Regions from separate parts of the Homo sapiens genome. Here region 1 is linked to region 2. The links come from fine-mapping of genetic effects on gene expression. A gene starts in region 2. The other region holds a variant in brackets. All regions are shown on one strand. Distances are between the middles of the regions. Region 1 has its middle 5.6 kb from the start of KCNJ5. Region 2 holds the start of KCNJ5-AS1 (KCNJ5 antisense RNA 1).

What was found.
Region 1: its variant is fine-mapped to the expression of KCNJ5-AS1 in nasal epithelium (TOPMed, PIP 0.96).

Annotation. Positions count from the first base shown.
Region 1 is chr11:128,883,099-128,888,474 of GRCh38, forward strand. No RefSeq gene overlaps it. Among named protein-coding and RNA genes, the nearest start is that of KCNJ5, 5.6 kb to the right of the region's middle. The variant T/A (reference allele first, on the strand shown) is at 2,271.
Region 2 is chr11:128,904,107-128,909,482 of GRCh38, forward strand. It overlaps KCNJ5-AS1 (KCNJ5 antisense RNA 1), which reads right to left and starts at 2,125. Exons shown (of 4, transcript NR_045767.1): 1 at 2,043-2,125; 2 at 325-505. All of the region lies in intron 1 of KCNJ5 (potassium inwardly rectifying channel subfamily J member 5), which reads left to right. RefSeq lists a silencer at 990-1,059.

The DNA of each region.
Region 1 (5,376 bases), 21 kb before region 2:
CAGTGTTCCGTACAGTGGATGAAAACAGTCCCACACCAAGGCACATCGTTGTGAAATTTCACACCACTACTCACTAAGAGAAGATCTGGCTAGTTTCCAGAAAGGAAAAAGAGGACCCGCAAAAGGATCAGGAATGAAACTTGCTTCGGGCTTCTAACAATATAATTGAAATGTGGAAGAAGAAGAAATCCCTCTAACATACCGAAGAAAAATAATTTCCCATTTAGAATTCTACACCTGCCCAAGTTGTCAATTGAATAGAATAGAGATATTCTCAGATATGCAGAATCTCAAAATTGTACCTTGCCCACTCTCTTTCCTAGGAAGCAATGGTAGGACGTGTTCTTCCTAAAAAGTAAGAGAGTGAACCAAGAAAGAAACACGCATGGGATTCAGGAAACAGGGGATGCAATATGGGAGTGAGGCAAAGCAAACAGAGATGCCAGGAAGCCAGCTGTGCGCTAGGCAGAGAGGGCAACCAGGCCAGACCAAAGGGAGCAGAAGGCACCAGGGAGATTTCTCCAGATGGAATCAGTAGGACTTCTGGTGCATCTGGACATCTTGAGAGGAGATTGAAATGGTAGGTGGAAATTTTTGCATTGAAATTGGTGATGAGGCCAGGCATGGTGGCTCATGCCTGTAATCTCAGCACTTTGGGAAGCTGAAGAAGGCAAATCACTTGAGGTCAGGAGTTTGAGACCAGCCTGGCCAACATGAGGAAACCCTGTCTCTATCCAAAATACAAAAATTAACCAGGCATGGTGGCGCGTAACGCACACCTGTAATCTCAGCTATTCAGGAAGCTGAGACAGGAGAATTGCTTGAATCCAAGAGGCAGAGGTTGCAGTGAGCCAAGATCGCACCATCGCACTCCAGCCTGGGTGACAGAGCGAGACTCCATCCCCCCAAAAAAGAAAAAAGAAATTGGCGATGAGAGCAAACACAACTACACAAACCAAACCAAGACAATTAATTAGTCCCTCCAGAGAAGAAAAAGAGTTGTGCAGGAAAGACAAAGCAATCTGGTTTGCTGCATGGATCAGCTACATACAAACAGAACTTTATAGACATAAAAATATTAAAACTGAGTATTCATCCAACCAAAATTGTGACACAGCTCCCTTGCTGGACGAGAAATGGGAAGTATGTGAGCACGTGGTGGGTTCAGGGGAGGAAAGGGAGCCACGTTTCCATCTTCAGTGGTAGAAAGTTCATAGGTCGTCTCTGAAGATGGAAGCATCTATAAGTATTACTAGAAGGGTGTCATTTACAGACAAAAACCAAAGGGAAAAAATAGCCAAAAGAAATGAAAGTGATGACCTCTGCAGATTGGAAGATGGTCAAAGAGGAAACCCAACTGCTTTTGTTTCAAATTATTTAGAAAAATGTGATGCTTCAAATATATTACTTTCATATATCACTTTTTTTTTTTTGACACGGAGTCTCGCTCTGTCACCCAGGCTGGAGTGCAGTGGCACGATCTCGGCTCACTGCAACCTCCACCTCCCGGGTTCAAGCGATTCTCCTGCCTCAGCCTCCCGAGTAGCTGGGACTACAGGCATGTGCCACTACGCCCAGCTATTTTGTGTATTTTTAGTAGAGACGGGGTTGGTTGGCCAGGATGGTCTCGATCTCTTGACCTCGTGATCCGCCCGCCTCGACCTCCCAAAGTGCTGGGATTACAGGAGTGAGCCACCGTGCCCGGCCAATATATTACCTTAATAAAACAAAAACTAAAGATCAAGGTAAGTAAATACATGTGTTCTACCTAGTGTGAAATCTCTTTCAAACACTAGATGGTGCTGTTGCCCCCCTTGTGGAAACCACACCGGGGCAGGGCAGGTGCTTGCTGGTCAGCATGTCTATGGAGTTTTCCACAAAACAGAATTAAGAGAGTTGTTATGAAAAAAGTTAGGAAGGAATTAAAGTTGTTCATTTTCTTTCCTTGCCAAATAGGAGCCCACTTCACTGGATAGGAAGAAAAACATCATTTGCCCCTAGCGGTGCAATAACTGGAAGCTCAGCGCTGGGCACCAAGCTGAGTCCTGGGGCTAAGTGCTGTGCCCTCTAGAAACAGATGTTGACTCGATAAAGTCAACTGTATGGCCAGCTGTGGCAAATGCCTCTCTCAGGCACCTGGGCCTGGACTCAAGAGTGAGAGGAAATTCAGGAACGGGAAGCTTGTTTCAGGGAAGCTGAAGCTACCATTGGTGCTCCCTATGGTCAGAATTCAATGGCATTAAAGGAACAGTGAATTTGGGATCATCCAA[T/A]GACAAGTGGGAAGCTTATGCACTGGGAGAAGTCAAGGCATCAACATGAATATCAGGCCACTTTCCCAGAGAGCATGTCTGTTTTGAGTTGTGAGATGAATAGGAGGCCTCTTTAACACATCCTGCAAAGTCACTAATGACAGCTTGATGGCCTGGTCAATGATTAGGGGTTTTTTTTCCCATTGGCCCTATTTTCCATGACTTTTCTGGATCTGTACTTACCTACTTTGGACCTCTGCTGTGTTGCACACAGGTTTCATGGGATAAATACTATGAAAGAAATATTCTATTAACGAGGGACGCCGGCACACTGGCCACTCAATTTTCTTGCCACTCTTCCTTTCCAGGTCATTCTGCCACCCCAGCCTTGCTGACCTCCAGCCATCCTGATCACTCCTCTATCTCCTGTTCTGTATCCTTCTCCCTCTGTCCCAGATCTGAGCATAGTTCCCAGCTCTTGCCTCTTCTCCTTCTCTCTCCACCCTCCTCCAGATACCTAAATTATTTCTCAGAGTTTCAGTCTTCTCCTCTCTGCGGATGACATTCCAAAATCTCCACCCCATCCTCAACTCCCCCGTCATCACCAGACATCCATTCCTGCCTCTTCTCAGACAACTCCACTTAGGCAATTAGTGGAGTTGCCACTTTTTGTGGAGTTGCAATTAGTGGAGTTGCAATTAGTGGAGTTCTCACCAACCTTCAGTTAGACATGCATGCAGCATGTCTAGAATCAAACTCAGCAGCTCTCCCGTCCCAGTCACCTACTCCTGCTAATTTTCTCATTCCTGACATCAGGCATGCACGCATTCAATAAACATTTACTTGGGTTTTAAAAAACAAGGTTTACACCCTTAAGGAACTTGTAGATTGCAGGTAGAGGAGAGAGACAGGTCACAGAACCCCCAACACATGTGATCGGCGCTCTATCAGAGGGAAGCGGAGGGGTCAAGGTGTCCACAGAGGAGGGGATCTCAGTGCCTCTGGAGATTCAGGGGAGCTTAGCCCAGCTCAGCTCCAAGCCATCCAGTTTCATTCCTCTTCTCCTTTGGGCTCCTGTTGACCCTTTCTCAGCCACATCTTCTACATCATGCTCTTCCAAGCCCCAGTGTGCATAGTCACCTGGAGAGCTTGTTAAAAGGCAAATTCTCTTTGAGCAGGTGGAGGGTGGAGCCTGAGATTCCGCATTTCATACATGATCCCAGGGGGTGGCACTGTTGCCGCCAGACTGTGCAACCCACTACCCGTCCCAAGGCTCTTTCTTCCTTTGCCTTGTTGCAGCCTTATCACCTCAGGCCAGCACTAGGGCCCAGCCCACGAACGCTCTCCCTGCCTCCAATCCTAGACTGTGCAATACAGTAGCTGCCAGCCATAGTGCCTACTTAAATGCAAATTAATTAAAATTTAAAATTCCCTTTCCTATTCACAGTAGCCACATTACACCTAGGCAGTAGCCACAATGCCACATTATACAGACAAGATATCAGGCATTTTCTTCATTGCAAAAGTTCTGTTGGGTGGCACTGCACAATAATCTCAGCTCCACCTAAACTAACCACAAACTGACTACCAGCCTCACCACACTCTCAGCTCCTTGAAGGCAAGTTCTGTATTTGTCTTGTCATTTTTCTCTAAGTGCAGAACCTACCCCATATCCTTTCTTTCATTTGACAAATATTTATTGATCATCTCCTATGTAGCAGATGCTGTGCTTAGCACTGCTAAGGGGCACCCAGAGGTGAACAAGACAAACAGGGTCCCTGTCATTGCAGAGGTCACAAAGCACGTGCTCCATAAGTCTTCACTGAAATGAATAAATGAATGAATCATACACAGACAACCCCCAGGGAAATCTTCACAATGATTTTCATAATTCTCCCCAACTCAGAAATTCTTAATACTTGCTTTCAATCTGCAGAAGAAAATCCAGATGCCACAGCCTGGGATATGAGGCTCTTCTGAGAGGCAGAGATGCGTGGTTAATGTCTTCGTTTGTTAGGGCTGCCATAACAAAACATCACTGACGGGGTGGCTCAAGTAGAAATTGATTTCCCACAGCCCTGGAAGTTAGGAGTCCAAGATCAAGGTTGTCAACAAAGTTGGTTTCTCCTGAGGCCTCTGCTCGGCTGGGAGACAGCTGCCTTCTCCTAGTGTCCTCAAAGTAGTTCCTCTTCTTATGAGGATACCAGTCAGATTGGATTAGGACTCACCCTAATGGTCTTAGTTTAATTAATTCTTTTTTTTTTTTTTTTGAGATGGACTCACTCTGTTGCACAGGCTGGAGTGCAGTGGCACGATCTTGGCTCACTGCAACCTCCGCCTCCCAGGTTCAAGGGATTCTCCTTCCTCAGACTCCCGAGTAGCTGGGTCTACAGACATGCCCAGCTAATTTTGTATTTTTAGTAGAGACAGAGTTTCCCCACGTTGGCCAGTCTGATCTGAAACTCCTGACCTCAGGTGATCCACCCACCTCGGCCTCCCAAAGTATGAGATTATGGGCATGAGCCACCACACCCGGCCCCTTAGTTTAATTTAATCACCCCTTTAAAGGCCCCATGTCCAAATACAGTCACATTCGGAAGCACTGGGAATCAGGGCTTCAACATCTGAATTTGGGAGAGACACCGTTCATCTCATAACAATTAGAAATATGATCTTGGAAACTAACAAAACTGGGTTCTGCTAGCAGGTCTGAAATTCCTGCCAGTGTGAGGGGACTTGACTTGTCTGAGCCTGTTTTCTCTCCGGAGAAAGGTGCTAAAGCTACCTCCCTCCCGAGGCTGTCGAGAAAATTACAAGCAATTACTTACGTGAAGCATCGAGCAGAGCTCAGCACATAGTAGGCACTGCGTTAATTACAGCCACTGGCATCACCACTTTACCGCCCAGATCCCCCAGCAGCAACCCTTCCCTTTCTTGTGGTCCCTGAGCACCCTGAGCCTTGCCTGCCCAAGCCTTGATTTCCAGCCCGGCTCCTTGACTCCTCTCCCTCTCATCACATTCAAACCTTAGTCTTCCTTCCCTAAGTCCTTCAGACCTTCCTTCTCTGCGTAGCCTTGCCGTCAGAAGTCAGTCCCAGCTCCTCTTCTCCGAGCTGTGTTAGCATTCC
Region 2 (5,376 bases):
TCAGGATTAAATGATACAATGCATGAAAAACACTCAGCACAAAGATGGCACAGAACAGGGATTCCATGCTGGAGCTATTATTACTGTTTGCTCCCCTGTTCTCAGGCCCACAAGGCTCTGCCACCTCACCCTGCTCACTGGACGCCTTCCTCACCAGGGCCTTCCTGACTCTTCCTCGCCCACCCCAGACAAGCCAAATTCAGGACTGCACCCTGGCCTCTCTCTCACTCTCTACTGCACTGATTTTTTTTGCCTGTGTACTCCCCACCAGACCAGGAACTCCTTGCGGACAGAGAACGCATCAAGGGTCGTCAATCTCATTACCTGTTGGAGTCACCTGGGGCCAGATTCTGGGACTAGGCATCAGCACGTTGTCCAGCTCCCAGCTGATGGCAGCGTGCGTCCAGGGCGGAGAGGTCGTGCTACTCAGGTGTGCACTGAGGACCAGCCGCGTCAACATCACTGCGGCTTCTTAGCAAAACCGCGGACTCTGGAAACCCCAGACCTACAGAATCAGAACCCGCATTTTAGCCAGATCCCCAGGAAGGGAAAGCACAGGAACGAATGCCAGTGAAGTGTGAGTCGACCTCCTTCTATCCCCAGAGCTCAACATAATTCAAACACCCAGTGGGTGTTGAGTGGGGGTTCGCTGACTAATTGACTGAGTGAGTGAAGCCCTGTGTCAGCTTCCACTGGGATTTCACACCTACTCCATCATGTGCTATGAAACAAACAGGCTCAAAAAGCAAACCCGTAAAACGTTCAGAAATTCAAAAATAGACACAGACCTAAGTTGATAGAACAAATAGCTGCAAAATGGTGCGGTTTTTAAATGAAATACCTGACGGGTTTTTAAAGATTTATTACCACCGGGCTCTGTGCCATTAAACCTCCGAGTACACTAGAGGATAATTTTGTTTTGTTTTAAGGTTGGTAATTGTGAAAAGCTGGGAAACCAGGACTGGCCCCTGGGAGGATCCTGTCCACCGGTGTGGCTTGGGCACAGTCTCTGGGTGGCTGGGGCCGCTGGCCCGCCCTTCCTCCAGGAAGAGAGACCCGCTGGCGGGGAGTCCCCGGCACTGCCAACGGCCTCCCCACGCCCGTTCCCTGGGGACAGGGCCTCTGTCTCCCCTCCGCAGGCCCCTCCTGGCTCTCACCCTCCCACCCCGCATCCCCCAGCCCCGCCTCCTCCGCAGCCGCAGAGCTGCAGCTGGCCAGGGGGCCACACCCAGGCGTCGAGCACCGCCTTATCCAGCCGCACTGGGGGCTTCGTCCCCTGCGGGGTGAGGGGTCTCCCCTGTGTCACCCTCCGAGGCCACGCTAGACGTTGTGGCGCTCAGGGCTCCCGGTTCCTGCCGCGCTGGGGCTCCCCCGTCCCAGCCTCCCTCCCCACCTCTCCCAGGCTCCCCTCCCCTGTCGCAGCCACCCTCCCCCGTCCCAACCTCCTCCCCTTCTCTCGCACGATCCGGCCAAGAGATGGCGGGGTGGCGGGAGGGGCGCTCTGGCGACCCCGGAAGCGAGAAGCAGGCCTCTGCAGGGCCAGGGATGAAGGTGCAAGGGAAAGCCCTGGGACCTGGACCTTAGGCGTGGGAGGGACGAAAGGGAAAGGTCTTAGAAAATTCCTCAGGCGTGGCTTCTGGGGGGGCGGGGCGGGGGGAGGAAAGGGGCACGGGTTCCCGGTCTCGTAGACGCTGCAGCGGAGCAGAGCCTCTAGGCATGCCCTCATCTAGAGCAGCTGCTGCGGAATCCGGGGAGCCTGCAGCACTAGCCGTGCGATTCCGGGCGAGGTTTTTAAACTCTCACCTGTTTTCCCCTTTTGTAAACTGAAGATAATGCCTCTCTCCCGGGAGTGGGAGCACGATGCTGACACACCGTAGGAACTCGGGACTTGCTGATTCTCCTTCCTTATCCTCAAGGCGTTTGAAGCACTCCTGCCCCTCACCCCCACCCCTCCAGCCCCTTTCCCAGCCCTGCCCCCTGGTGGAAAATCCTAAGAGCTACCTCTCAGGAGGGCTCCTGTAAACCAGGCACTGTACACACACCTTTCATTTCATCTTCGCAGCAGCTCTTTTTGGTGAGTACTGTTATCCCCATTTTGCAAATAAAGCAACGGAAGCTTAGAGAAGTAACTTTTCCAAATGTGCCTCAGCTCCAGGCAAAATAGGAACCTAGGTCATCTGATGCCAGAGTCAGCCTTCCTAACTGTTTATGATCCGACTTCCCTTTCTGTACTGGATTTTCTATTTCTGCCATAACAGATGACCACAGACATAGTGGCTGGAAACAGCACCCACTTATCAGCTCACAGTTCTGTAGGTCAGAAGTCCAGGCTTGATGCGACTGTGTCCTCTGCTCTGTTCCCACAAGGCCAAAACCAGGGTGTCAGCGAGGCCAGCATTCTCATGTGGAACTCAGGGCCCCCTTCAAGCTCCTGTGGTTCTGGCAGAATTCAGGTCTTTGTGGTTGTAGGACTGAGGTCCTCACTTTTTTGCTGGCTATCATCTGGGGGCTGCTCTCAGCTCCCAGAGGTCACCCACATTCCTTGCCGTGTGGCCCCCTCCATCTTTAAAACCAGCAAAGGAGAAGCCCCCTCTGTCTAATTCCTCTAATAATTTGAATCTCTTACTTCGGGAAAAGCCCAATCCCTTCAAAGGGCTTGTGATTGGGTCAAGCTCACCCCAGATGAACTTTCTTTCTTCAGTTCAGCTCTGCCATATGACATGCCCCAGTCATGGGAGTGAGGATTTCCTGGGGTTCCTCAGGGGGTGTATACCAGGGGGCAGGAATCACGAGGGTGTGTTGGAATTCTGCCTACTTACAAGTGCCTTCTCTGTCCCCAGCATGTATTCTGGTGTTACATTCAAGTGTAACACCTCGAATGCTTCCTGCTAACCCTAAAGGGCCTTGAGGGGACTGGGGCAGCCTGTTCACCAACCAGTTTGGAGCATTTTCCTATGAGTACAGTCATATATATTCCCACAGAAGAGTATACAAATATCTCCATATGAGACATAAGCACGCCCTCCTCCATTCCTCTTCCTCCAACTTCATCCCGTGTTTCAAAGCTCAGAGAGTGGTACATTTTGATCCAGCATATCTTAGAAAGTAGGAAATTGATAAAGATGCTTGTGATCACAGATAGGGAGACTGAGTCTGTGAAAAGACTCCCAAGCCAGTGGTCTCTCCAGGAAGCCCTGCTGACCCCCAAGCAAGGCTCTTACCAAGTTGTTAGGGCCCTGACTCCTGACATTCTAGACCACGCCATGACACCAAGTTTTCCTCCCTGTGGGTGCGTGATGTTTGACATTCTTCATTCAGAGGTCCATCTAAATGGATGTCACATTCACTAACGCATCATCTGAAATACAACTTCCTTTGATTTTGCCTCTTTTGAGTCTTTCTCCACTTGTGTTTTCCTATCAAAGGGATTAAACCACTTTGCTGGACTTGAAGCTCTGTCTTTTCCAAAAGCTTTCATCATGTCTCAACACAGCTTCCCATTCACAGACACAGGAGAGGATGGAAGAAGAGAAGTATCAGGCTTGATGAGGCTTAATAGGATTTGCTCAAGTCAGTGCCTTTCCCTGCGTCCTGCAGAGAGTAGCTAGGATGCTCAGCTTACCTAGGCCAGCCACAGCATTCCTCCCTGTCTGTCCTCTACAGACAGTTCTGCAAAAACCCTAGCTTCAAAGAGGAAATGCTAGAATATCAACTATGGGAGGGCTGGCTCTGCGTTTATCTTCTTCACTGCTTTATGTCCAGCTCCTAGCACAGGGGTTTGGCTATAGTAGTTCCTCAATTAATGTGTGCTTAATGAGTGCATAATTAATAGAACGGATCTCGAAAACCTGATTAAAGAATTTCATCTCCATTGTCCCTGAAAATCCTTTTGACTTGATAGGCACACAACACTGGAAGCCAGGGTTTCAAGGATGGGGATTTTACTTACCCTTAAAAGAAATCTAAACAGTAGAGGCTGCATGCTGGTCAGCTCAATGCTTGCCCTGCAAATTGCCCACTGGGCCTTTAGCTATTTGTCTTAGATAATCTCTACCTCTCTTTCTTCATCTTTAAAATGGGGTTAATGGGATATTGCATTAAATTTCAATTTGAGGAGAGATTATGAATACGTATGTTTATTTTATTTATACTTATGTTTGTATCATGTATTCTTTCCATGAATCCCTACAATTGGCTCCCAGGGCTGGAGGAGCAGAGGATATTATCTGGGATTTATAGCAGAGTAAACTGAGGCAAAGAAAGTTAAGTTTGTTTGTATTTGGACCACAAAGCTGGTTTGTTGGACACTGAGTCAGAATCCAGATGTTACCCTGGGTTGAGCAAGGGATGACTTCTGCGGATGATTCCAGCGCACAGGAATGCGTCCCAATATCAAATCAAAAGTAAACCACCCTTTCCTATCTGCCAGACGCAAAAAGTTTTCCTATCTGGGCTGAAGTCTCCTAGAAAACATTTTCCCGTTTCTAGTACGGCACAAAGCCTTCGCCTACAAGAATGTATGCAAGTATGTTTAAAAATAAAGAAGGAAACAGTGCAGAAAATCAGCAGCAAGCTGTTTCCCCAAAGAGCTGAGTACAGGAGGATGTGAGCTCCCATGTGCCCCGGCCAATGACTCATTCTTGTGGCACTGTGCCTGCCCTGCCCAACCTCAGTGGCTCAGGGAGTCCGCAGCGGCACCCCCATTGGAAGCCTATCTTGGTTCCAACAGCTGGGGTGTCCAGAATACACGGGGCCTCGGGACAGCAGCATTTTCCATCATCTCTGAGCATCTGTGATTGAGTTTTCAGGATGAAGTCTCCCACTTAAGGCAGAGCAAATTCCTGCTTGGGATTCTGCAAAGATAGCCCCAAGCATTTTCCTCCTTGTCTCATTTATCCTTGTTAACTGCCACATGAAGGAGCAGGAAGCAGGTGGCCCTATGCAGAATGGGAAATGGCCAATGGACATCTGGGACAAAGCCCTTCAGATGACCTTTTGATATGATGTTTTAAAGGTTATCTTGAAATTGCTATAATCACCCAGGCAGCACAGGAAAAGGCCTGCCAGGGTCATCTGACTCCCCAGGACAGCTGGGATCTACCTTGGTTTGCCATTAGGCAGTCAGCTCAGTGGTTGACAGGCCTTTTTCCAGGTTGTTCTACTGGGGACACAGCTTCCCGGTGTTCTGCCTGGTGGAACCTGCAGCTGGAGTCACCCTCAGAATGGTGGCAGGGGAATTCCTGCAAGGGACTGCCCAAACCATCCCCAAATGGGGTCAGTTGAGATTCCAAAGAAGAAATCACCAAGTTCCAAAGCACTTATTAGGGGAACTTACATGTAGAGCGCTGCACTGGTCCTCATGACAGACAGCAAGAA